3 linked regions of the Homo sapiens genome follow. The protein of the gene in region 2 purifies or fractionates together with the protein of the main gene of each other region. This does not show direct contact. Each region holds a gene or a part of one and is shown on either strand. Other genes may lie near its edges.

The links.
Region 1: the proteins of ZSCAN31 (region 2) and YTHDC2 purify together in Homo sapiens (affinity purification with mass spectrometry; 2 studies listed by BioGRID and IntAct, with this or other methods). This does not show direct contact.
Region 3: the proteins of ZSCAN31 (region 2) and MTMR4 purify together in Homo sapiens (affinity purification with mass spectrometry; 2 studies listed by BioGRID and IntAct, with this or other methods). This does not show direct contact.

Annotation. Positions count from the first base shown.
Region 1 is NC_000005.10:113,565,693-113,572,717, forward strand, and holds part of YTHDC2 (3'-5' RNA helicase YTHDC2), read left to right. Parts: intron 1-200; coding exon 201-327; intron 328-1,399; coding exon 1,400-1,605; intron 1,606-1,961; coding exon 1,962-2,157; intron 2,158-7,025. UniProt on the Homo sapiens protein: 3'-5' RNA helicase that plays a key role in the male and female germline by promoting transition from mitotic to meiotic divisions in stem cells.
Region 2 is NC_000006.12:28,333,130-28,341,030, reverse strand, and holds the start of ZSCAN31 (zinc finger and SCAN domain-containing protein 31), read left to right. Parts: upstream 1-4,882; 5' UTR 4,883-4,949; exon of another isoform or gene 4,950-5,675; intron 5,676-7,901.
Region 3 is NC_000017.11:58,490,615-58,497,639, reverse strand, and holds part of MTMR4 (phosphatidylinositol-3,5-bisphosphate 3-phosphatase MTMR4), read left to right. Parts: intron 1-1,309; coding exon 1,310-2,708; intron 2,709-4,687; coding exon 4,688-4,798; intron 4,799-5,040; coding exon 5,041-5,129; intron 5,130-5,799; coding exon 5,800-5,977; 3' UTR 5,978-7,025. UniProt on the Homo sapiens protein: Lipid phosphatase that specifically dephosphorylates the D-3 position of phosphatidylinositol 3-phosphate and phosphatidylinositol 3,5-bisphosphate, generating phosphatidylinositol and phosphatidylinositol 5-phosphate.

The sequences.
Region 1 (7,025 bases), on a different chromosome or scaffold from region 2:
ATAAACTCAATGGCTTTTTTAGCATTTGAGTATAAATTAATGATAAATATTATTTGATCATAAAGTCTTAGATTTTATAGAAAATTAGAATAAGGCAAATTCACGTCGAGGAATTCGTGTAGTGATTTGTAGTTACTTGTTGCCTCACTAAGAAGCGATTAGTAAATGTGTCTTGTTATGCAATTATTCTCTTTTTATAGGCCTGGCAAAAAGCACGAAGTGATGGGTGGGAGCGAGCCTTTTGTGAAAAGAATTTTCTTTCACAGGCTACTATGGAAATAATCATAGGCATGAGAACACAGTTGCTTGGTCAACTTAGAGCATCAGGTAAAGTTTTTCCCTCAAAGAGCCTATTTAAGTTACTGAGAGTACCCTGCCCATATTTCATAGTATTTCTTATGTTAACTGATGCCATCTATTATTTTTATGACATTATCATGTTGTGTATCTTATATTCATGCATGATTTGTAGACTTCGATATGTCTTCAACTTTTGCTTGTTGATGAAAAAATGCTATTGCAGGAGGTGTATTTGAGAAATCTAGGGACAGAATCTATATGCTTGTGATACTGTTGGCAATGAACAATTTGTATTGGTTGGCAGAGATCAATTTAGATCTTATAGTTATTTTCTTTTATCACCATTAATGAATACTTATTTAGTTCTGTGAAATAGAAATTTTAAAAAATTGATATGAATGCTGCTCTTCATATTTTTGGAACACAAAAACAGCTAGTAATACTTGAAGTCACCTTTTTTTTTTTTTTTTTTTGAAGAGGATGCTAGTATTGCTATTACCTTTTAGAATTGCCTTTTTGAGTAGCAAAAAAAAATTGATGTGGTAGTCAGAAGAATAGTACCAGAGCCTGGATTCATGGGTTAGCTGAAGTGCCAGAGTAATATAAGGAATGAACCAGAGGACTTAAGAGTTGACTTGAACATAAGGAAATATGAAGGACTTTTGAAACTCAAGCAAAAATTACCATATATTTACTTGACTTCATCTACAGAATTAGTATCTATCATAACCAAAATGTTGTTAATAACAGTCAGAAGAATGGTTTGGGTTTCCAGCTATGAATTTAGTTTGTTTCTGGCAGCAGATTATGAAGAACTTTATTGCAAGAATGTGGATCTAAAAAAATTTAAGCCCCAAGTGATTCTTATACTTAATCTAACCTGAGCAGATCTACACTTCCCTAGAATGTTGGTTCTGTATCTGTTTTAGGGTGGGGAGGGGTGGTTCATATTTTAAACAACTTTCCAGAGGAGATTCTATTAATTATCGTGAAATTTGAATATCACAAAATTTACATGAGTTGTACAAGTTTTTGGAAAAAATACACAAAAGTATCTTTTGCACAATAGAAAAATTGGTGTGGTTTTTTTCCCCTCTAGGTTTTGTTAGAGCACGAGGTGGTGGTGACATTCGGGACGTTAACACAAACTCTGAGAATTGGGCTGTCGTTAAAGCTGCATTGGTGGCAGGCATGTATCCTAATTTAGTCCACGTGGACAGAGAGAATCTAGTGTTGACAGGGCCAAAGGAGAAAAAAGTACGATTTCATCCTGCTTCAGTTCTCAGTCAGCCTCAATATAAAAAGGTAAAAGATTTTGAATGCTGTTGGGTTTTGAGGTGAAACTAATTTAGGTAGTTCACTATCAATGAAAAATGCTCCAAATACCTGCCTGCTTTAAGAAATTAATTAGTTATATATATATATATATATATATCATTAAATATTGGAACAAAACTTATAAATTTTAGAGTTGGAAAAGGTAACATGTTAAGTAATGAGTACTTTTGTACGAACTACATGAGCGATGACTTGTTTTAATTTTTGCTTACGTACTAATATACATCATCTATTTCATTGAGAGACTTTACATTTTAAAAGTATTTCCAATAAACTAGGTGATAAACACAATTAACAATTTTTAAAATTTATTTTCTTAATAGATTCCTCCAGCCAATGGTCAAGCTGCAGCAATTAAGGCACTGCCCACAGATTGGCTTATTTATGATGAAATGACCAGAGCCCATAGAATAGCTAATATTAGATGTTGTTCAGCAGTGACGCCTGTCACTATATTGGTATTCTGTGGACCAGCTAGATTGGCAAGTAATGCTCTTCAGGAACCTTCATCCTTTAGAGGTAAATGTATTAAGGAAATAAAAATCTATTTGAAATGAATTTTTTTTTTTTACCAAATAATGAAATTATTTTACTAAACCAAATAATGAAATTATAAAGATTTATATAGTAGCAGCTCTATTTTGATGTACTAAGACTAATTAGGAAATACTAAGGTATACTACTGTTTTTGAAATTTATTTATAAGGTAACTTGATGTTTATTTGTGCATTTTTTATTAATCTTGCTGTTGGGAAGAAATTTTTCTTTTCCACTTGAATTTAAATGATAGTTTAACGTAAATAAAGTTAATTGTAAAAGAAATAATAGCCACCCATAATCTCATTTTTCTCATGCTAACACTTTTTAATGTTATATTTTTTCTACATGTTTACATATTTTAAATTATTTCACCCAAACTGTTATTTTATATTTTGTTATTTTCATTACAGAGATATCAAAAATATTTTTAGTATTTTATATTAATGACTGCAAAATAGTATATCACATTGAAGTGGCATAATGCATTTTTTTCCTTCAACTTTTATTTTAAGTTCAGGGGTACATGTGCAAGATGTGCAGTTTTGTTGCATAGGTAAAGGTGTGCCATGGTGGTTTGCTGCACAGATCATGACATCATGTATCTATCAAGCCCAGTGTCCATTAGCTATTCTTCCTGATGTTCTCCCTACCCTCTACCACACACCCCCAGTAGGCCCCAGTGTGTGTTGTTCCCCTGTCTGTGTCCATGTGTTCTCATCATTCAGCTCCCACTTATAAGTGAGAACATGCGGTGTTTGGTTTTCCATTCCTGCATTAGTTTGCTGAGGATAATGGCTTCCAACTTCAGCCATGTCCCTGCAAAGGACATGATCTAATTCCTTTTTATGGCTGCATAGTATCCCATGGTGTATATGTACCATATTTTCTTTATCTAGCCTACCATTGATGGGCATTTGGGTTGATTCCATGTCTTTACTATTGTGAATAATGCTGCACTGAACATACAAATGTACTTATCTTTATAATAGAATGATTTATATTCCTTTGGGTATTTACCCAGAAATGGTATTTCTGCCTCCAGGTCTTTGAAGAATCACCATGCTGTCTCCCATGGTGGTTGAATTAATTTACACTAGTGTAATTTAATTACACAGTAGTGTAAAAGTGTTCCTTTTTCTCTACAACCTCACCAGCATGTTGTTTTTTGACTTTTTAATAATAGCAATTCTGATCTCATTGTGGTTTTGAATTGCATTCCAGTAATGATCAGTGACGTTGAGCTTTTTTTCATATGTTTGTTGGCCACATGTACATCTTTTGAAAAGTGTCTGTTCGTGTCCTTTGCCCACTTTTTAATGGGTTGTTTTTTCTTGTAAATTTGCTTAAGTTCCTTGTATACTCTGGATATTAGACCTTTGTCAGATGGATAGATTGCAAAAATTTTCTCCCATTCTGTAGGTTGTCTGTTTCCTCTGATGATAGTTGTTTCTTTTGCTGTGCAGAAACTTTAGTTTAATTAGATCCCATTTGTCAATTTTTGCTTTTGCTGCAATTGCTTTTGGCGTTTTTATCATGAAATCTTTGCCTGTGCCTATGTCCTGAATGGTATTGCCTAGATTTTCTTCGAGGGTTTTTATGGTTTAGAGTTTTACATTTAAGTCTTTAATCCATCTTGAGTTAATTTTTGTCGAAGGTGTTAGGAAGGGGCCCAGTTTCAGTTTTCTGCATATAGCTAACCAGTTCTTTCAGCACCATTTGTTAAATAAGGAGTCCTTTCCTCATTGCTTGTTTTTGTCAGGTTTGTTAAAAATCAGACGGTTGTAAGTGTGTGGTCTTATTTCTGAGTTCTCTATTCTGTTCCATCATTCTATGTGTTTGTTCTTATACCAGTACCATGCTGTCTTGGCTACTGTAGCCCTGTAGTATAGCTTGAAGTCGGGTAGCGTGATGCCTCAGCTTTGTTCTTTTTGCTTAGGATTGTCTTGGCTATATGGTCTCTTTTGGTTCCATAAGAATTTTGAAATCGTTTCTTCTAAGTCTGTGAAGACTGTCAGTATAATGGGAATAGCATTGAATCTGTAAATTTCTCTGGGCAGTATGGCCATTTTCATGATATTGATTGTTCCTATCCATGAGCATGGAACGTTTTTCCATTTGTTTATGTCCTCTCTGATTTCTTTGAGCAGTGATACGTAGTTCTCCTTGAAGAGGTCCTTCACTTCCCTTATTAGCTGTATTCCTAGGTATTTTATTTTACTTTATTTTATTTTATTTCATTTTTTTGAGATGGAGTCTTGCTCTGTCACCCAGGCTGGAGTGCAGTGGCACAATCTCAGCTCACTGTAACCTCCGCCTCCTGGGTTCAAGCAATTCTCCTGCCTGAGACTCCTGAGTAGCTGGGATTACAGGCACGCACCACAATTCCTGGCTAATTTTTGTATTTTTACTAGAGACAGGGTCTCACCATGTTGGGCAGGGTGATCTTGAACTCCAGACCTCAAGGTGATCCATCTGCCTGCCTTGGCCTCCCAAAGTGCTGCAATTACAGGCGTGAGCTATCATGCTTGGCCTTTTCCTATGTATTTTATTTTTGTTGCAATTGTGAATGTGAATTCATTCATGATTTGGCTCTCTGCTTGCCTGTTGTTGGTATATAGGAATGCTAGCAATTTTTGCACATTGATTTTATATCCTGAGACTTTGCTGAAGTTGCTTATCAGCTTAAGAAGCTTTTGGACTGAGATAATGGGTTTTCTAGATGTAGATCATATCAACTACAAACAAAGATAATTTGACTTCCTCTTTTCCTATTTGAATACTCTTTATTTCTTTATTTTGAGATGGAGTCTCACTTTGCCGCCCAGGTTGGAGTGCAGCGGTGTGATCTCAGCTCACTGCAACCTCCGCCTTCTGGGTTCAAGCAATTCTGCTGCCTCAGCCTCCGGAGTAGCTGGGATTACAGACGTCTGCCACCATACTCCACTAATTTTTTTTGTATTTTTAGTAGATTTGGCATTTCACCATGTTGGCCAGGCAGGTCTCAAACTCCTGACTTCAAGTGATCTACCACCTCGGCCTCCCAATGTGCTGGGATTATAGGCATGAGCCACTGCACCCACCCGACGTGAATACTCTTCATTTTTTTCTCTGGCCTGATTTCCTTGGCCTGAACTTCCAATCCTATGTTGAATAAGAGTGATGAGAGAGGACATCCTTGTACTGTGACAGTTTTCAAGGAGAATGCTTCCTGCTTTTGCCCATTCAGTATGATACTGGCTGTGGGTTTGTCATAAATAGCTCTTATTATTTTGAGATATGTTCCTTTACTACCTAGTTTATTGAGTTTTTAACACGAAGACATGTTGAATTTTATTGAAGGCCTTTTCTGCATCTATTGAGATAATCATTTGGTTTTTGTCTTTAGATCTGTTTATGTGATGAATTATGTTTATTGATTTGCATATGTTGAACCAGCCTTGCATCCCAGGGATGAAGCCAACTTGATTGTGGTGGACAAGCATTTAGATGTGCTGCTGTATTTGGTTTGCCCATATTTTATTGAGAATTTTTGCACTGATATTCATCAGGGATATTGGCCTGAAGTTTTCTTTTTTGTTGTATCTCTGTCAGGCTTTGGTATCAGTATGATGCTGGTCTTACAGTATGAGTTATGGAGGAGTCCCTCCTTTTCAGTTGTTTGGAATAGTTTCAAAAGAAAGGGTATCAGCTCTTCTATGTACTTCTGGTAGAATTCAGCTGTAAATCCATCTGGTTGGGCTTTTTTGGTTGGTAGGCTCTTTATTACTGCCTCAATTTCCAAACTTGTTATTGGTCTATTCAGGGATTCAGCTTCTTTCTGGTTCAGTCTCAGGAGTATGTATGTGTCCAGGAATCTACCTCTTTCTTCTAGATTTTCTAGTTTATTTGCATAGAGGTGTTTATAGTATCCTTTGATGGTAGTTTGTATTCCCATGGGGTCAGTGGTGAGATCCCTTGTATCATTTTTATTGTGTCTATTTGATTCTTCTCTCTTTTCTTCTTTATTAATCTAGCTAGCAGTCTGTTTTATTGATTTTTAAAAAGAACCAGCTTTTTGATTTGCTGATTTTTTTGGAGGGTTTTTCCTGTCTCTATCGCCTTCACTTCTGCTCTGATATTAGTTATTTCATGTCTTCTGCTAGCTTGGGTTTGTTTTCTCTTTGTTCTCTAATTTTTTAAATTGAGATGTTAGGTGGTTAACTTGAAATCTTTCTAGCTTTCTGATGTGTTCATTTAGTGCTATGAATTTCCGTCTTAACACTACTTTAGCTGTGTCCCAGAGATTGTGGTACATTGTCTCTTTGTTCTCATTACTTTCAAATAACTTCTTGATTTCTGCCTTAATTTTGTTATTTACCCAAGAGTCATTCAGGAGCAGGTTGTTCAGTTTCCATGTAGTTGTGTGGTATTGAGTGAATGTCTTAGTCTTGAGTTCTAATTTGATTGTGCTGTGGTCTGATAGACTGTTATGATTTTACTTCTTTTACATTTACTGAGGAGTGTTTTACTTCCAGTTATGTGATCAATTTTAGAATAAATGCCATGTGGCGATGAGAAGAATGTATATTCTCTTGTTTTTGGGTAGAGAGTTCTGTAGATATCTATCAGGTCCACTTGATCCAGAGCTGAGTTCAGGTCCTGAATATCTTTGTTAATTTTCTGTCTTGATGATCTGTCTAATGTTGTCTGTGGGGTGTTAAAGTCTCCCACTATTATTGTATGGGAGTCTAAATCTCTTTGTAGGTCTCTAAGAACTTGTTTAATGAATCTGGGTGCTCCTGTATTAGCTTGCATATATATTTAGGATCATGAGTTCTTTTTGTTGAATTGAGCCCTTTACCACTGTG
Region 2 (7,901 bases):
AATCCAGTGGAAATGTCCTTCAAAAATAAGAGTGAAATAAAGACATTTTCTATTAAATGATAGCTGAAAAATACTTCTCCAGCAGACTTGCACCTGCACTGCAAGCCAACCAACCAAACCAAAACCAAAACCAAACCCTAAAGAAAAACAAAAAACTTCAGTCTGAAGGGAAGTGACAGCTGGAAACTCAGATCTACAAGAAGGAATTAAGAGCATCAGAATGGTGAATATGTATGTGAATATAAAAGCCTTGCTTTTTAGTTAATTTCCTTAAAAAACAAGTGATCATTTAAAGCAAAAATAATATCATTTTAAGCTGGCAGTTATAATGTACAGAGAAGTAAAATATATAAGAATACTACAAAAGATGGGTGTTTTAGTCTGTTGTCATGCTGCTATAAAGAAATACCCAAGACTGGGTAATTTATAAAGAGAGGAGGTTTAATTGACTCACAGTTCAGCATGGCTGGGGAGACCTCAGGAAACTTACAATCATGGCAGAAGGAGAAGCAACATGTTCTTCTTCACATGGCAGCAGGAGAGAGAAGAAGAGAACAGAGTGAAGGGGGAAACCCCTTATAAAACCTCAGATCTCATAAGACCTTAGTATCATGAGAATAGCAAGGAGAAAACCGCCCCCATGATTCAATTATTTCCCACTGGGCCCTTCCCACCACATGTGGGGATTATGGGAACAATTCAAGATGACATTTGGGTGGGGACACAGCAAAACCATATCAATGGGCAAGAGCAAAGGAATAATAGTGTCATAAGTTTCTGTCTATATGTGAAATGTAAATTGTTAAATATGCAACTAAGACTAAAATGTGAAGTGATACAATATTATTTCCAATTAGGCTGTGATAAATTAAAGATGGGTATTGTAATTACTGTAACAGTCATCAGATTCCTATCTATTTCCACTGCAGCACTTAACTTATTCAGAAGTGGGTTTATGATTAAGTCTATAAAGTGTAAGTGATTCTACATTTGCATGTTTCTTCAAATGCCCTGGCCTGGAATGATACCTAGCAATGTGTTTACATGGTTCATATGCTTGTAAAATTTGAGGGGAAAAAATGGATTCTACACTTGCAGTTTCTTCAAATGCCCTGGCCTGGAATGATACCTAGCAATGTGTTTACATGGTTCATATGCCTGCAAAATTTGAGGGGAAAAAATGGATATTTTAGCAACAGGTGTTTAAACCACTGTTTGTTTCCATTTCTGACTCCCCATCTCTTATTTTTCTCTTGTTGAGTGGCACTGAAATAACAATAGAGAATTTTAGCATCTGGTAAGGGGACACTATCTTAGAAATAAGTCATTTTAACTACAATTTGAAAAGATATTTTGGCATGATTTAAGCAATAAATGCTAAATTACAAAATTAAATAATTTATTAAAGAACTGAGAGCAAATTTAAATTTAAAAATTAATGGAGGCTAGGCGTGGTGGCTCATGCCTGTAATCCCAGCACATTGGAAGGCCAAGGTGGGCAGATCACCTGAGGTCAGGAGTTTGAGACCAGCCTGGCCAACACGGCGAAACCCCGTCTCTACTAAAAATACAAAATTTGCCAGGCGTGGTGGCACATGCCTGTAATCCCAGATACTCGAGGTATGAGAATCGCTTGAACCTGGGAGGCAGAAGTTGCAGTGAGCTGAGATCGAGCCACTGCACTCCATCCTGGGAAATAGAGCATGACTCCTTCCCCACTCCCCTGCCAAAAAAAATTAATGGAATGTGAGAAACAAAAGAAATAAAGATAATAAAATCAATGGAAATTATTCTGACATCAGGAAGCAAATTATAACAAAAGAAACAATGTCAAATTATATAAAATCAGCAACTCATTAAGAAAAAAAGCTAAACTTTGAATACAGTAAAAAAATATGCTCTTGGATTAATTCTCTAGTGAAGAAAAGTGAATCACTGAACACATTGAAAAGAGATTTAAATTTCTTGCACATTTTACATAAAATACTGATATTGACAAAGACATCATAATATGCCATTGACAATGAGGACATCTAAGACCAACTAGTTAATGTGTCATCAACACAGAGATTCTCAGATTAGTCCCCACATAAAAAAATTTGAATGTCCTGAAATCTTGTAGCTCATAATTGAAAGAAACTTGATAGAAGTTTACTCAAATGTCAACAATTTTAAAAAGCTTTTGATCAACCATGCTAGAGGAATGGCTACATTAACTTTTTATTCTTTCTAGAAAAATTTAAATTATGAAATTAACATACAAAGAAGCAGTCCAAGAACATAAAGCCAACAAATTAGGGGAGAGTTACTATAGAGGAGTCAGGCAGTTAAATAATAAAAATATTTTGTTATTTTTCTGATTTTTGTTTGTGATATTTGGAAGACTTTAAAATTTGTAGTATAGCTGGATGTGGTGGCAGCAGCTCACACCTTTAATCCCAGCATTTTGGGAGGCAGAAGCAAGAGGATTGCTTGAGCACAGGAGTTTAAGGTTGCAGTGATCACACCACTCCACCCCAGCTTAGTTGACAGAACGAGACCCTGTTCTGTCTCGTTTTGTAATTGTAATTATCATTACAATTACAAAAAAAATTGTAATGTGATGTAAAGAATGTATTTTCCATTCTATATTTATTTATTTATTTTTCGAGATGGGATCTCACTCTGTCAGCCACGCTGGAGTGCAGTGGCACAATCTCAGCTCACTGAAAACCCCACCTTCCAGGCTCAAGCAATCCTCCCACCTCAGACCCACAGGCATGTGCCACAATGCCTGGCTAATTTTTGTATTTTGGGTAGAGATGGGGTTTCACCACGTTGCCCAGGCTGGTCTTGAACTCCTGAGCTCATGCAATCTGCCTGCCTCAGCCTCCCAATGTGCTAGGATTATAGGCGTGAACCACCACGCCTGGCCTATTTTCCATTCTAAATCTCCATTTTTGTTTTTTTTCTTTTTCCTTCTTTATTTATTTATTTATTTAATTTTGGAGACAGGGTCTCAGTCTGTCACTCAAGCTAGAGTGCAGTGGCACGATCATGGCTACTGCAGCTGGTGATTATCCCTGCTCAGCCTCCCCAGTAGCTGAGACTAATAGCATGAGTAACTGTGCCTGGATAATATTTTTTATTTTTTGCAGAGACAGAGTCTCACTATGTCGCCCAGGCTTGTCTTGAACTCCTGGACTCAAGAGATCCTCCCATCTCGGCCTCTCAAAGTGTTGGGATTACAGGCGTGAGCTATTACACCTGACTTAAGTCTCCATTTTCATATCTATGTTTGTACTTGTAATTTTGTATTCCTTTTCTCAAATAAGGTCTCTTGAATTGTATAAGCTGGGTCTCTTTCTGTCTGTATTCCTTGTTACATTATAAACCCCATGAGGATGAGGACCTTGTGTCCTTCATTATTATTATATCCAGCAAGCCCTTGGCACAAAGATCGCATTCAATGGGAATCTATATAATTAATGAATGAGTTGTAAAAAATCAATTCAACCTCTTAACATGTATTATCTGTCTTCTCTATTTCTATTGCTACTGCCTTGATTCAGGCCCTCACTCTCTCTACCCTGGATTCTTGTAGTAGTCTCCTAGCTGGTCTCCCTGCCTGTAGTCTCATTTCCTTACAGTCCATCCCCACATGGCTGCCAAGATAACATTTCTAGATGTAAATTTGATCAGACTGCTCAAATTCCTTGGTTAGGGATCCAAAAAAAGTAAGAGCTGGTGCCCCTGCCACATATACCACTCTCCAGTCATGCTGATCAGCCCAGTTCTTTGGATGTACCAAAGGATTTCACCCCAGTTCTGCTTTTGTACATTTGATTCCCTCTCCCAGAAATTTATTTCCTTTGCTCCTTTTCCAGTGTACACTGGCAGATTCCTGCTGAGTCTTGTTTTGCCCCATTAGTTTTCCTCTCTCTTCCACGCCACGAATTCAAACTAATACATACATTTATTTCCTACATACGTACTTAGCATGTTCCAGAGGCTATTCTCATCGATTTACAAGCACTTATTTTATTTTACTTCATTTCACATGCACGTCTGTTTTACGCAGTTACTTGTTTACACGCTCTTCTTCTAGACTTTGGGATTCCAGAAGACAGAGGTTTGAGTGTAAAACACAAAATAACAAAACCACAACAAAAACAACTCTGTATTCTCGTCCCCACCATTACCATCTCTCCTTTGTGATGTCAAAGAGACCAGAGGAAGTGGACAGACTCGGGGAAGAATAGGTAAGTATTAGAGACAGAAAAAGTATGAAGTCCCTTCTGTGAGGACTAACAATAGTGATGCCATTTTACAACCTTGATGACTGTGTTCTCAAGAAACAAAGCAAATGTCAACCCCGTCCATAGCTTCAACAGAGCATAACAGCTCTAACCGCAACAGAGCCTAACGGCCCTAACCACATCTGTCCCCAGTTGGAAAGTGTCCAAACAGTTCCAACTAGCCAGCACTTCCCCAACCCCTCCCCAACAGAAACTTTATTATAAAAGCCTCAGCTTGTAAGCGATCAGGATCTCAGCCAGATTCCTAACTGGAACTCTTCGCAGGCTTTTCCTGTAAATAAACCTGTTTGGCCGTGGAATTGCCTCCTGTTACTCGCTCTCTACGTTTATATCTTCCTAACACCTTCCGGCTCTAATGTTTTGGGTCTCGATGACCATCTAACTCCTAAATGCTGGGGGCCGCTCCCCATAGAAATGCCTCGCCGGATTTCTCCGCCTCGCACCCAGTGGGACTGGGATTTTTGGCCCCGGGGTTTGCAATAAGGGAGTCACCAAGCAGCAGCCACCTCTGGAATTCCTAGAAAGGAAAGAGTTGCCTGGCTTCAGCCAGTGGGCTCAGAACGGCTGACGCATTTCCGGCCTTTGCGGTTGATCGGTCATTGGGGTGCTGCAGCCCCGCCACCTGTTCCGTAGCTTGCCGGTGCCCCGAAGGTGAGTCTTGGCCCCTTGTCGCGACCCGCCAGGTTCCCAGAAGATTTCAGGTCTGTGCCTTGGAGTAGGCGGGGAGGGAACGTCTGCGCAGGCGTGACCCCCGCCCCTACACATTCACTGGCCTGAAGCCCCCGTGGAGTAGGTGGAGGTCCCGCCCCTTATCCTGAAGATTAAACAGCCTTTCTTTGTCTGAGATAACGCCCGGAGTTCTTTGTCCTGCCTCCAAGACGATAAAGGAGCGCAGACACAAAGGTGAGGTTAGAGCGAAAGTTTAATAAGCGAAAGGAAAAAGCTCTCTGCCAGCAGAGAAGGGGTCCCGACCGGGAGTACCCATTATGGGGCCCGTTCTGGGGTTTTTATGGACTGGAAAGGAGAGGGAATGCGCTTAGTCTGCGGGCTGTCCTGGCGAACGCTTGACTCAGCTTGGTCCGGGACCAATCAGGAGCTGAAATGATGATTCATAGCTGCTGCTTAGCTTGGCCCAGGACCTATCAGAAGCCGAAGTGAAAGTTTGGCCCCGGACCAATCAGGGGCTGAGGTGATGATTCACAGAAGCTGGGCTTATAGTCCTAATAAAGGAAAGTAGAGCGCCTGCCGGAACCTACCAGAACCCACCGTGTCCATACCCACAAAAGGAGAAGAAACTTTTCCTGGGAACCTGCTGACTATACAAAGGACAAAGGCATTATGTGTCAGGCCTTGTTCCCTTATCTGAGTGAGCTGGAGGTTCTGTGCAAGTTTTTATCCAAATGGGCCCGAGGTTTTTCTATCTATGCAGCCGTGGGCATATCTCTAGGCACAACACCCTGTGCTAGTTCCCTTATCGGTGCCTGCAACCTGATTTTTTCCCCAGGCTTAGTTTTATGTTATGTGGGGATAAGACACTAAATCATGGGCGGGGGCAGGCTCTCCAGGGACCCTTCCCTTGCTATCCACCTAAGGCAAGCTAGGTAGCCCTTTCACAGGGTGGTGGGAGAGACCCCTAGAGAGGTCGGAGCTTTGCGGCGAAACCGAGGTCCAGAGGTAGAGAAGGGTCTCTCCCTGTCAAAAGCCTTATTTCCTATATACACGTAATTTTTATTTAATAAGTCAACATTATGCAATGTTTGTCGCATATGTTTTCTTTAAATATTGTAAAAACCACCAACCTCATAACTTGTCACCTCTAGTTTCTAATGCATCTCTAAAAATTGGGGACATTTCCCTACATAACCACAAGATTATTAGCACACCCAACTAAGTGTAGGCGCTTCACCTAACACCTAGTTCATGTTTAAATCCTTCCACCCCCTGTTGTCCCACAGATGTCTTTTATACCTGTTTGTACCAACTAGGATCCAATCATAGACCACTCACTGCATGTAGTTGAGTCTTAACCTAGGGCAATTTTACTCTTTGCCTCCCTTCCTCCCATCCCATTGCCTTGTTTAAAAGGAGGCTCTTCCAGTCTTCCTGTAGTGCATCCCCATTTCTGGATTTGACTGTTTCCTCATGGTATTTAAGGTCTTCTTCTGTTTTCTTGTCATCGTAATTGGTATCCTTTGGGATTTATTTTACAACACACATGATTTGTGATTTACATGATCTCTTTGTTGCTGTTGTTAATTATGCTGACGTGAATGAAAACATTCTCATGAATGAAAACATTCTCTTTTATGCTCTTTCTGCCATGTTTTTATTTCGGTGAAGGACAGTGGGGACACATCAAATTCTGCATTGTTTCACTCTTTGCTGTCTGACACCTCGTAAACACTTAGTAAATATATGTGAAATGAATTCCTTTGTGGATTACAGGCAATGCATAAAAACTTAATCTTGTATTTAGGATGAGCTCTTCCACTTCCTCCAGGGGTATACCTTGTATACATTTTTTAAATTATGGCTTTTATTTTATTGTATTGTAACTATATCCTCATGAGCTATAAACACCTCTATATTCCAAGCTCTTAGCTCAGCTCCATAAATTGATTGTCCAGTGACTGAACTGCTTTTACAAAGGTTAAGCTCTTTCTCCTTTCACTTGTACAGTAACATCTAAACTAAGTGGAAGTCTTTCTAGATTCAGTGCAATAGTCTTCACCCCCTCCACTTTACCCTTTTTTTTAACTCTTGCCTCTTCTGCTTCTACTCTTGCTTTCTGCTTCCACTTTTGCCTCTACCCTCATTCCCTCAGCTCATTCTCCATCCAGTAGCAGAGCTTCTCGGTACAGAATTCAGCCTTGTCACTCCCTTTCTTAAAGCCTTCAGTGGTTTCTCATTGCATTTATAAAATCCTAACTCCTATGCCCTACATGATCTGACTCCTGCTTGGCTTGCCAGCCTAATATTTTGCCACTCTTCTCCCACATGACTGTAGACACTCCAGCCTCCTTTCCTGTCTTTGATGGCAGCATGCACTTCCTCAGGGCCTTTGGATAGTCCAGAGTGCTCTTCCCCTCCCTCATCCCTATTCTGTATGGCTCACTTCTTTTGCACTTAAGGGCTTGGCTTAAATGTTACCTCACTTCCCACTACCCCATCTAAATAGGCTGTCCATTTATTTGGTAACTCAGTGCCTAGTTTATTATCCTCAGTAATCATCACAACTCATAATTATTTTATTTGCCTCCTTACTTATTTTTGTTGTTGCTTTTATTTTTGGTTTGTCTTCCCCGTTAAAATGTTTGCTCCAGCAAAACAGGGCCTGGTCCCGTCTTTTTCACCATTGTAGCCCTAATGCCCAGCCAAGTACCTGGTATGTTATGAGTGCTCAATGAACATTTATTGACTAAATGAGCAAATAAATAGGTTAGTTACTAGTAATGAGTCTCTCCTTGTCCCTTGCCTCCTGGGCCTTAGTTGCTGATAAAGTCATAAGCTGAGTCAGCAGTCAACTACCTTTTATTTTTCTGTCTCCCTTTCATGAGTGTGGAAGTCCACTGCAGGTCCTGGAATGAAACAGTGAGCCTGGTT
Region 3 (7,025 bases), on a different chromosome or scaffold from region 2:
AGAGTCCTGCCTTCAGGACACTTCAGTAGAGGGAGTTAAACAAGTAAACAATAAAGTGCAATAATGTGTTATAGGAAGCACTGAGCAATGTGCTTTGATGTGGATTCTTTTGTTTAATCTTCATAATAGCTTTAAGAGCTAGGTACTTTACCTTTATTCCATAGATGAGGGATCTGAGGCGTAGAGAAGTTAAAGTCACACAGCAAAGATGTTGTTAAATTGGGATTTGAACCCTGCCTATGGGACTCCAGGAACTATAATGATAACCACTGTTATTGCCTTCCTGGAATTTCGTACCATTAAAAAAATCAAAATTCGTCACAAAAGGTATATCAAGTATGTATAAAACATTTGTTTTAAGTTTCAAAAACCGATTACTTAAAATAAGCTGCGTTGTAACTGCCTTTGGGGAATTTTTCCGCATAGGCTGAACTGACTGAGCCATCTAAAAATAGGAGGCCAGTGAAGCCTCTACTGTTTCCCTGGTGAATTTCACTCAAGTTTTCATTGCTCTAAGGACTTTGAACTGCATTAATAATCAGGATGGTCACTCTTGAAAATGTCCCTTAACCTATCTGGTATATATGAATGCCTCTAGAACTCTGAGTGCTATATACTAGGGGAAGTTTCATGGGGCCTTGGGAAGCAGAGGAGCACACTGCTGCTAAGTGGTTATCAAGAGCAGTGTTGAGGGAGTTGTGTTGTCTTAATAAAGTTTGTGGTTATTATGTTTGTGGTTGGTTGCCTGTATTTTGAATTCTCATAGCATCTCTACAAGGTATGATTTATTATCATCATTGTATAAAGGGAGAAACCAAGTATCTGAGAGGTTAATTTACTTATTTGTAGTCATGTAGCTAATTAGCGTCAGAGCCAATATTGTCTAGCTCCAAAACCCATCTTCTTTCTGTTTTACTGTGATGGAGGCAGTGGGATATTGGGTTTGAGTCTCAGGTATAGTCCTAGCTGGAACAGTAGATTCAGAAGGCATTGGCATAGAAGGCAGCTGAAACCACTGTAGTGGTTGAGATTGCCCAGGGAGACTGGTAGGTTGAGTGCTGACAAAAGCTGAGGATAGATTTTTGGGTTCCGGAGGACACGGTCCATGTCTCATGCTTTTTTTACAGAGTAAACTTTCAGTGAACATTGGTTATTTGTGATCTTAAGGGTCCTTATTTCTAAACTTAAGTGTTCTTAAGTGTCATTATTTCTAAACTCTGGCTTTGATATTGCTCCATTGATTCAGTTCCATATATTGTATTGCAAGTGCCCATCTCCTGACCTGGAGGTGTTATATTTGTCTTTCCAGATTACCTAAAACCAGATCCATGGATGATCTTCTTTCTGCCTGTGACACAAGCAGCCCCCTGACTCGTACATCCAGTGACCCTAACCTGAATAACCACTGTCAGGAGGTCAGGGTAGGCCTGGAGCCCTGGCACAGCAATCCTGAGGGATCAGAGACAAGCTTTGTGGACTCTGGGGTAGGAGGGCCTCAGCAAACTGTAGGAGAAGTGGGTCTTCCTCCTCCTCTGCCCAGCAGCCAGAAAGACTACTTGAGCAATAAACCTTTCAAGAGTCACAAAAGCTGTTCTCCAAGTTACAAACTGCTTAATACCGCAGTGCCTCGGGAAATGAAGAGCAACACCTCTGATCCTGAGATCAAAGTCCTAGAAGAGACTAAGGGACCAGCTCCAGACCCTTCTGCCCAGGATGAGCTGGGTAGGACTTTAGATGGCATAGGGGAGCCACCTGAACATTGTCCTGAAACAGAAGCTGTCAGTGCACTCTCCAAGGTCATTTCTAACAAGTGTGATGGAGTTTGTAATTTTCCTGAGTCTTCCCAGAACTCTCCTACAGGTACGCCCCAACAGGCCCAGCCAGACTCCATGCTAGGTGTGCCCTCCAAGTGTGTTCTTGATCACAGCCTCAGCACCGTTTGCAACCCACCGAGTGCTGCCTGCCAAACTCCTCTAGACCCAAGCACTGACTTCCTCAACCAAGATCCCTCAGGGTCTGTGGCAAGTATCTCCCACCAGGAACAACTGAGTTCTGTGCCGGATCTGACCCATGGGGAGGAAGACATTGGTAAAAGAGGAAATAATAGGAATGGGCAGTTATTGGAAAATCCTCGCTTTGGGAAAATGCCATTGGAATTGGTCCGGAAGCCAATTTCTCAGAGCCAGATCAGTGAGTTCTCTTTTCTAGGGTCCAACTGGGACAGCTTCCAAGGGATGGTGACTTCATTCCCAAGTGGGGAGGCCACCCCTCGGCGGCTGCTTTCCTATGGCTGTTGTAGCAAGAGGCCAAACAGTAAGCAGATGCGGGCCACAGGGCCCTGCTTTGGGGGCCAGTGGGCTCAGAGAGAAGGTGTGAAGTCACCTGTCTGTTCTAGTCATTCCAATGGACATTGTACTGGCCCAGGAGGAAAGAACCAGATGTGGTTGTCCAGTCATCCAAAGCAAGTCTCTAGCACAAAGCCCGTTCCACTGAACTGCCCTTCTCCAGTGCCTCCTCTGTATTTGGATGATGATGGACTCCCCTTTCCCACGGATGTGATCCAGCATAGGTTACGGCAAATCGAAGCAGGGTACAAACAAGAGGTGGAGCAGCTACGTCGACAGGTGCGTGAGCTTCAGATGAGGCTGGACATCCGTCACTGCTGTGCCCCTCCAGCAGAGCCCCCCATGGACTATGAGGATGATTTTGTAAGTAGTCACCAACTGCCATACACCCATTATTTACTCTGTTCATCCAGCCTTCCCTCCATTCAGCATTTATTCGTTGGGTACTTGCTGTGTGCCACTGAGTTAGGTGCCTGGGCTATAGGATGAAAAACAAGTAAGCAATTAGAATGATGTTTTTAAGTGCTATGATTGAGGAGGCATCAGGTGTTAGAGGGCTGGAGTGGAGTGAAACGTCAAGGAAGACTTTCTTGAGAAGGTAATGCTTGAGCTGAGTGCTGAAGAATGTGTGATACTTAGCCAGGTAGACAGTGAAAACAAAACACCATTTGCAGAAGCGTAGTGGCAATAGATACTCCAATGATATGGCTTAAAAAGATGGGACATGCGAGTATATATGTGTACATGCATGCATACACGCTTACACTGGGGCTATGAGAGACAGTCAAATAGGGTGGTGGGAGGTGACATTGGAGAATTAGGTGGAGATTACAAGGGTCAGGTTGAGTGCCCTTCTTGTTTGGATTTTACCCTTAAGGCAATAAAATTTTAGGCCAGTGCACAATATGATCAGAGTTGTAGTTTAAGAAAATGACTCTTGCAACAATGTACAATTTTTTTTTTTTTTTTTTTTTGAGACGGAGTCTCGCTCTGTCACCCAGGCTGGAGTGCAGTCGTGCAATCTCAGCTCACTGCAACCTCCGCCCTCCCGGGTTCACGCCATTCTCCTGCCTCAGCCTCCTGAGTAGCTGGGACTACAGGCGCCCGCCACCATGCCCAGCTAATTTTTTTTTTTTGTATTTTTAGTAGAGATGGGGTCTCACTGTGTTAGCCAGGATGGTCTCGATCCCCTGACCTCATGATCCGCCCACCTCGGCCTCCCAAAGTGCTGGGATTACAGGCGTGAGCCACTGCGCCCGGCCCAACAGTGTACAATTTTAATGAGGCAGTTGAGACCCAGATTGGGAGGCTGGTAAGGTCATTTTGGAATAATCCAGGTGAGAGATGAAGACTATAGGCTGTGCAGTGTTGGGCAGCCTCAGGTTCTGGCACCATAGTCCTTGGGGAGCTTCTAGGAGCCAGCTTCCTCTCCATGGTATCTTGCCATTTACACAGACACTTTCCTTCCTTCTGTTAAGGTGCTCCCCACTTGCCTGCTTCTCACTTCTCTGGTGCTTTAAACAGGAGTCAGCAAACTTTTTTTTTTTTTGTAAAAGGCCAAATAATAACTATTTTAGGTTTTGTGGGCCATACCGTCTATGTTGCAACTACTCAGCTCTGCTATTGTGCAAAAGCAGCCGTAGCCAGGCACTGTGGCTCACGCCTGTAGTCTTAGGACTTTGTGAGGCCGAGGTAGGTGGATTGCTTTAGCCAAGAAGTTTGAGACCAGCCTAGGCAACATGGTGAAACCCCATCTCTACAAAAATTACAAAAAATTAGCTGGACATGGTGGTGGACGCCTGTGGTCCCAACTACTCAGGAGGCTGAGGTGGGAGGATCTCTTGAGTCCAGGATGTTGAGGCTACAGCGAGCCGTGATCATGCTGCTGCATTCCAGCCTGGGCAAAAGAGCGAGACCTTGTCTCAAAAACAAAACAAAAAGCAGCCATAGACAGTAAGTAAATGAATGAATGCAGCTGTGTTCCAGCAAAACCTGATTTACAAAAACAGGCAGTGGGCTAGTTTGGCCTGTGGGCCATAGCTTGCCAACCCCTGGTTTAGAACATAACAAGAGTCTTTCTATGCTGTGGTGTAGCATATCGGTAAGAGTGTAAATCTGAAGCTACAATACTAGGTTCAAATCCCAGCTTTACTACGTATCAGCTCTTTCTCTGTGGCTTCATTTTCTTATTTGTAAAATGGGGATATTAGTAGTATACATTGTAAGACTGTCATAAGAAATAAGTTCATGTGTGTAATGCACTTAGCACAGTGCCTGACACATGGTAAACAGTAAGCGTTAATGATGATGAAGATAATTTGTTGTCTTTGCCTTTTCATCAGACATGTTTGAAGGAGTCAGATGGCAGTGATACTGAGGATTTTGGCTCTGATCACAGTGAAGACTGCCTTTCAGAAGCAAGCTGGGAACCTGTTGATAAGAAAGAGACTGAGGTATGTTTAGGCACATATGTGGTGGGTACTTACGTGAGCCAGTGAGTCATCATATTTTCCAGAGATGAATGACATGCTGTAGACTGAGCTGTCCCCCAGAGGAGTGTCAGCCTGGTAGGCAAATGGTAGCCAGTTATGAAGATAAGCCTTGTCTCTTTCTGCTGGGGTGCTTTCCTCATTGCAATGTTGCTCTTCCAGTCTGTCAACAAGGACCAGGAATTTTTCTTTGTGCCTTCTATTAGGTGACTCGCTGGGTTCCAGACCATATGGCATCACACTGCTATAACTGTGACTGTGAATTCTGGTTGGCCAAACGAAGACACCATTGCAGGTAAGATGTTTTGTATGATTTAGTATGACAAAAAACAGGGCAGGCCAGGCGCAGTGGCTCACACCTGTAATGCCAACACCTTGGGAGGCCGAGGCAGGCGGATCATGAGGTGAGGAGATTGAGACCATCCTGGCCAACATGGTAAAACCTGTCTCCACTAAAAATACAAAAATTAGCTGGGCGTGGTGGCGCATGCCTGTAATCCCAGCTACTCTGGAGGCTGAGGCAGGAGAATAGCTCGAACCAGGGAGCTGGAGGTTGCAGTGAGCCGAGATTACGCCACTGCACTCCATCCTGGCAACAGAGCAAGACTCTGTCTCAAAAAGGACAAAAAACAAAAACAAAAATAGTGTAATACATATGTATAGAACTAAGTGGAATTAGTTTGGAAGTGGACACCTCTTTATAGAAACTATTTTTGTTTGTCCCCAACTTTTCATTTAGTATCACTCATTCTCAGTATATTGGCATTTCTTAATATTAATTAATTAATTATTTTTTTATTAGCGATGGGCTCTTGCTATGTTGCTCAGGCAAGTCTCAAACTCCTGGCCTCAAGCGATTCTACTGCCTCAGCCTACCAAAGTGCAGGGATTACTGGTGTGAGTCACCCTGCCTGGCCAGTATATTGGCATTTCTGATGAACTCTTCCCTCTTTCTGCTTTGACAGAAATTGTGGGAATGTATTTTGTGCTGGATGCTGCCACCTGAAGCTGCCCATTCCTGATCAGCAACTCTATGACCCAGTTCTCGTCTGTAACTCATGTTACGAACACATTCAAGTCTCTCGTGCCAGGGAACTCATGAGCCAACAGCTGAAGAAACCCATTGCTACAGCTTCCAGTTGAATGCCGGGGAGAAACCTGTCCAATTTTAGCAGGTTTGAAGGGAGGATCTTCTTCAGTTGTAGTTTGGAAGGTTCCTTGGTGTGGCTCATGAAATCACAGAGCTCAGAGATACCATCTTGAGAAATCCTCCTTGGTATCATGAAACTGGAGCAGAGGAATTGCAATTTAGCAGGAGGTCCTCTACTGGTGATACCCTCACCTTGGGGTAATGGTCCTAACCCAGACCCAGGGTCTGGAAGCTTAATGTTGAGTTGGTGACTCCAGCCTCTTTCTCCTGGAGGTCACAAGATGATGATTGCGTAGATGTTGCCTGGTGCAAAGTGCCCCAAACAGCAATAGAAAGGCATATGTATAACCAAACTCCAAGTGATAACCAGACCCATCTCTCCTCCACCTTGACAAAAGCAGATTATAGTATACAAGGTAGGAATTCCTGTCCTATTTGAGATGAACTATATCCTGTACCTCTGTGCTCTGTGTCTGCATGAAGGCTCAGCCTTTAGAGGCACTCCTTCTAGTTGCATTAGTACTGTCTTTCTGTGGAGTTTGGTTTGAAGACTGGCTCAGCAAGTGGAGGTTTCAATGTATTTTTCAGTTGGCTCATCAGCCAGCATTGGTGAATATTCAGTTTAGGGGAACAGTTCTAGGGAGTGAGACATTTTTGGGAGCAGAGGAAAACTCTGCTGATGTTCGGTCCTGGCAAACATTGAGTTATTTTGAGCTGTGAAGGCAGTCGTCTCTGTTACACAGTGGCAGCTCTTGAGTTATGCACTGTGAAGAATGAGAAGGGAAAAGCAAAAATTATCCTTGTGAAATATCTGCTGATTGTGCCCTACTCTTTGCACCTGACTTTTCCTAGTTGTCCTGGTGCTAACACAGGAGCTACACCTTGATCCTCTCCTGGCATGAAAATAAAACAAAGGTTTTCGTTGTTGTTGTTCCATTGCCCATTTCCCCCATGTTGTCTTTCCCTTGGCTGATGCCTCCTCTGGGTCACATTGCTTCTTATCCTGAACACTTGACACCTTGAGGGTAGAATTTAGCGTTT